Regions from separate parts of the Homo sapiens genome. Here region 2 is linked to region 1. A link means that fine-mapping ties the variant in region 1 to the expression of a gene that starts in the linked region. Tissue or cell type: whole blood. Region 1 holds a variant in brackets; the other region holds the start of a gene. All regions are shown on one strand. Distances are between the middles of the regions.

Region 1 (2,683 bases):
AAAAGATTGGGGTTTCTTAATATTAAGATTGCTCAGCTGTGACACAAATCTTTCCCATGTGCAATGTCCACTTGAGCTTTTTGAAATCCCTCTAAAAAAAAGTAGCATGGACAAATACAAACATGAAGTTTGGCCTTCAGTTATACAGTAAATAGTAGGGATTTTGTCATACTTCAGTGTCTCATGCCTTCTACCAGCATCCATAAAACTGGAAGGTTAAGGTGGGGTGGAGCCAAGGTTGCTGAATAGGAACAGCTCCAGTCTACAGCTCCCAGCATGAGTGATGCAGAAGACAGGTGATTTCTGCATTTCCAACTGAAGTACTGGGTTCATCTCACTGGGGAGTGTCAGACAGTGGGTGCAGGATAGTGGGTGCAGTGCACCAAGAATGAGCCAAAGCAGGGCAAGGCATTGCCTCACATAGGAAGTGCAAGGGGTCAGGGAATTCCCTTTCCTAGTCAAAGAAAGGGGTGACAAACGGCACCTGGAAAATCGGGTCACTCCCACCCTAATACTGCACTTTTCCAACAGTCTTAGCAAATGGCACACCAGGAGATTATATCCCGTGCCTGGCTCGGAGGGTCCTATGCCCACGGAGCCTCACTTATTGCTAGCACATCAGTCTAAGATCAAACTGCAAGGCGGCAGGGAGGCTGGGGGAGGGGCGACCACCATTGCCAAGGCTTGAGTAGGTGAACAAAGCAGCCGGGAAGCTCGAACTGGGTGGGGCCCACTGCAACTCAAGGAGGCCTGCCTGCCTCTATAGACTCCACCTCTGGGGGCAGGGCATAGCCAAACAAAAGGCAGCAGAAACCTCTGCAGACTTCAATGTCCCTGTCTGACAGCTTTGAAGAGAGTAGTGGTTCTCCCAGCATGCAGCTTGAGATCTGAGAATGGGCAGACTGCCTCCTCAAGTGGGTCCCTGACCTCCGAGTAGCCTAACTGGGAGGCACGCCCCAGTAGGGGCAGACTGACACCTCACACAGCCAGGTACTCCTCTGAGACAAAACTTCCAGATGAACGATCAG[G/T]CAGCAGCATTTGCGGTTCACCAATATCCACTGTTCTTCAGCCACCACTCCTGATACCCAGGCAAACAGAGTCTGGAGTGGACCTCCAGCAAACTCCAACAGACCTGCAGCTGAGGGTCCTGACTGTTAGAAGGAAAACTAACAAACAGAAAGGACATCCTCACCAAAACCCCATCTGTACATCACCATCATATCCTGAAGAACTGAATCATATCCTGAAGAACTGAATCATATCCTGAAGAAATGAATCATATCCTGGAGGATCAAAACTGAAGGAATAATATATTAAAGCAATGCAGGTTGCATACTAAAATGAGCAGAGCAGTAGGTCATCTGCAGATCGCAAGACCCTGATCTGAGAATGGGAAAACTCAGAGAGGTCCTTTGACAGTGCCTGGCCAGATAAGTGAGGTCTGTATCAAAATCCCTGCGGCAACACCATCCATGTTAACTGGGTTGTTTGGCCAGAGGAATCTTCGAAAGCAAATCATTATTGAGGGTCAGGATGTAATGTTATACAGAAAAACGCATCCTTTGGATCTAATACTGAGAACCATTTAGTTCCCTCAGGTATAGGGATTAGGTACCACTGCATGGATTGGAACTACAGCTTCATTAATGAGGCAAGGTGCTGAACTAGCCTTCATTCCCTCTAGGTTTTTGCACTCCTAATATTGGGGTGTTGCAGGAACTGTTACAGGGTTTGAGGTGGCCCCACATTGTCAGGTTATTAATAATGGCTTCTAGCCATTTCCTATCCTCTGGCTTTAGGGGCTATTGTCTCTGTTAGGAAAAGAGGTGGGATCCTTAAGATGGATCCAGACTGGCCAAACAGTTATAGCTTGACCAATTCTTCCTTGTGTTGCCCACACTTCTGGATTAAGATTAGCTTCCACCAGGAGGAGACAAAGAGTTTGTCCTGGGGCTATAAAGATGCTGGCCCCCAAGTGCGCTAAAATATCTCTACCTAATAAAGGAATAGGACTTTCAGCCATGATTAAAAAGGCATGTGTAAATAATAGGCCCCCCAAACTACAACTAATAAGTTGAGAAAAATATGAGGTTAGCACCTTTCCTGAGACACTCATCATGGTTATGCTACAAGGACGGGGAGGCCTGGACTAGAGAGGAGAAGAGAAAGGCTACCTCCAGTGTCTATGAGGTCCACCCTCCTTTCTTCAATTTCTATAATCACCTGGGGTTCTTATGCAGTAATGGCATTTTGAGCCACTGGAGCCAGGAATTTGAGCCCCAGGACCTGTCAGTCCCATTGGACTACTGTGAGATTGGTTCTGAATCCAGTGACCTCCATCTCTGGGGGCAGTCCAATCTCCAGTGATTCCCACCACAAGCTGCACAAGGTCAAGATGGCTTCTTCTTGCTGCCTGGGCACTCCTTCCTGAAGTGCCCTGAGTTGCCACACCAGTAGCAACTAGTAGATGCGCCTTGGGGATCCTGGGCTTTGCAAGTCTGCAACGCAGCTATATCCTTCTCTTTTGCTTTCTCTCTTTCTCTTGAGCCTCCTCCTTGTCCCTATTAGAAAAGACTGAGGTGACTATCCTCAGGAGGTTTTCCAAGGTGCTATCTGGTCCTACAGCTTGTTTTTGCAGTTTTCTTCGAATATTGGGAACCGCCGGTGTAATAAACTTGCCCTT
Region 2 (2,683 bases), 800 kb before region 1:
GCAGAGTCAAATCCCTGTGGACACTGGACTTCTTGCTACCATCATCTGGAAAGTACAAAACGCCTGGAAGGAGGAAGAGGCTAACATGCGTGACCACCCACCATGTGCCAGGCCTACTGTGTGCTAGACTCTGGGCAAGGGACTTTACATGTTATGGGGTGCAGCTCATGTAAGGACGAATGAAGATATTACACTATGGATCTGAGCCAGGCGCAGTGGCTCACGCCTGTAATCCCAGCACTTTGGAGGCCGAGGCAGAAGGATAGCTTGAGGTCAGGAGTTCGAAGCCAGCCTGGGCAACATAGAGACTCCATCTCTCAAAAAAAAAAAAAAAAAAAGCGATGAATCCGGCATTGCAGAGAGTGGGAAAGTGTCTGGAGGTTTAAGAGTAAGAGAAGGAAGAGGAGATTGCGATGGTGGGTGGTCAAAGTGAGGGGAGAAGAGGCGAGTTGGGAAAGGAAGGTGCTTAGGAGCAAAAGGGCAAGACCCAGGGACACCTGGAGCGGGGCGGGCGACTGCCATGCAGACAGGACTACGTACAACGGGTAGGATGATGGGGCGATGAGCTCAAGAAGCGCAGCCGGGGTAGACGTGGGGGCAAATGTCCGATCCCGGCGAGACGAGGGTCTCATCCCAGGGGACTGCGGGGCTAGGACGTGGTCCCAGGGCTGCGAGAAGGGAGAGAAAGGGCAGAGGGGAGAGGCCCCGGCGGCCGGGGCGAAGCCGAGCCCGGGAAATGCCGGCGATGGGGGAAGGGGCGTGGGAGCAGGGGCCGGACGGGCCAGACCCGGGGCTCCGCGCTCGGGGGCGGGGTTGGACAACCGGGAGGCACCGAGCAGAAGGCGACAAGGGGCCAAGGGATGCCAGGACGGGGCACAGGGCCGGGTGTGAGGAGACGAGAGGGGAGCGGAGCCGCAGCGAGCGCCGCGTCCCCCTTACCTGGGATGAGTGAGGAGCCGCCGCGCCGCCTGGACGGCATCCTGGCCTCAGCCGCTGGTCCCACCGCCTTCGGTGGGGGGCCACTCGGGAGCCCGCCCTCACCGCCAAGCGCCGGCAGCTGCCAGCCTGGACCGGCCCCGCAGAGCAGCGCCGTTCCGACCCGCAACCGAAGCCGCCTCAGCAGCGTCTCCCGCGGTCGCCAACTCAGCGACAACCGCCAGGGTCCGGGGAGGTGGCGGGATCACACATCTGCTACGATTGGCTGAGCGGACGATGTGTCGGCTGCTCTGATTCGTGAGTTCCGGCCGGCTGCCCACCGAAGGAGGCGCGGCTGGGAATGGAGCTGGGTCCGGCAGGCGCCGAGGGGCGGGGGTCTGACGTCGCAGCCGGCCAGCGCCCCCACAGCCCTTCCCGTGCGCGCTCCCGAGGGGGCTTCCCGGCAGCCGCAGGCCTGGCCGGGTGGTTGCCCTAGCAACAGCGCGCGTGGCCTGGCTGCAGGGGAGCCGCGGGCAGGTGGCGGTCCTCACCGCCCCCACCCCCAACGTGGGTGTCCCAGAGGCCTTCATCAGTGAAACCCTAGGACAGGAGAAGAAAATGAGCTTTTCCTGATAATTCCTCTCCTCTGCTTCAGAGCCCACCTTTGCCCGCTGCTGGCAGAGAAGCTGTCATCTCCTCGGGGAGATAACGCGCAAATGCAAATAACGAACTCAAACACTATTTCATCCCCACGAGAGTGTAGACGTGCAATAGTCCCTCCCAACCACAGAGGTGGGGGGCTGACGCCCTAAAAGAAAGAAATGAAAACTAGGGAGAAAAAGGCAAAGAAGCAAAAGAAAGGTGGGGAAAGGGCAGATATTTCACAAAATGATCCATTCATTTTACAGTTTCTTCCTACAGACACATCTACACCAGGTTCTGTCAAAGCAATTATTTCTACTCCAGTGACATGGATTAGAGAAGGCATGAGTGCAGAATCTAACAGCTGTATTCAAAATTGCTCTCTGCTAGGCCAGGTGGGGTGGCTCATGCCTCTAATCACAGCACTTTGGGAAGCCAAAGCTGGTGAATCACCTGAGGTCAGGAGTTCGAGACCAGCCTGGCCAACATAGTGAAACCCCGTCCCTGCTAAAAATACAAAAATTAGCCGGGCATGGTGGCGGACGCCTGTCGTCCCAGCTACTGGGGAGGCTGTGGCAGGAGAATTGCTTGAACCCGGGAAGGTAACTACCTTCCTTTGCACACAGTATAATATTTTCAAAGTTCATCCATGTTGTAGCATGTATCGGCACTTCATTCCTTGTTACGGCCGAATAATAGTCCATTATACAGACATCACCTTTTTTTTTTTTGAAGAGTCTCACTCTGTCTCCCAGGCTGGAGTGGAGTTATGTGATCTTGGCTCACTGCAACCTCCACCTCCTGGGCTCAAGTGATTCTCATGCCTCCGCCTCCAAAGTAGCTAGAATTACATGCATGTGCCACCATGCCTGGCTAATTTTTATATTTTTAGTAGAGACGGGGTTTCATCAAGTTGCCCAGGCTGATCTTGAACTCCTGGCCTCAAGTGATCTGCCTGCCTTGGCCTCCCAAAGTGCTGGGATTACAGGCATGGGCCACCGTGCCTGGCTGGACATCATCTTTTATTTATCCATTAATCCATTGATGGACATCTGTTTCTACTTTTTTGGCTATTATACATGATGCTGCTATGAACATTTGTGTAGAAGTTTTTGTGTGTGGCCGG

The links. PIP is the estimated chance that this variant, and not a neighbour inherited with it, causes the effect.
Region 2: TPST1 starts here. The variant in region 1 is fine-mapped to the expression of TPST1 in whole blood (INTERVAL, PIP above 0.99).

What each region holds. Positions count from the first base shown.
Region 1 is chr7:65,405,494-65,408,176 of GRCh38, reverse strand. No RefSeq gene overlaps it. Among named protein-coding and RNA genes, the nearest start is that of ZNF92, 33 kb to the right of the region's middle. The variant G/T (reference allele first, on the strand shown) is at 1,029.
Region 2 is chr7:66,203,779-66,206,461 of GRCh38, reverse strand. TPST1 (tyrosylprotein sulfotransferase 1) reads right to left here and starts at 1,128. Exons shown (of 6, transcript NM_003596.4): 1 at 940-1,128. RefSeq lists silencers at 726-1,085, 1,236-1,505.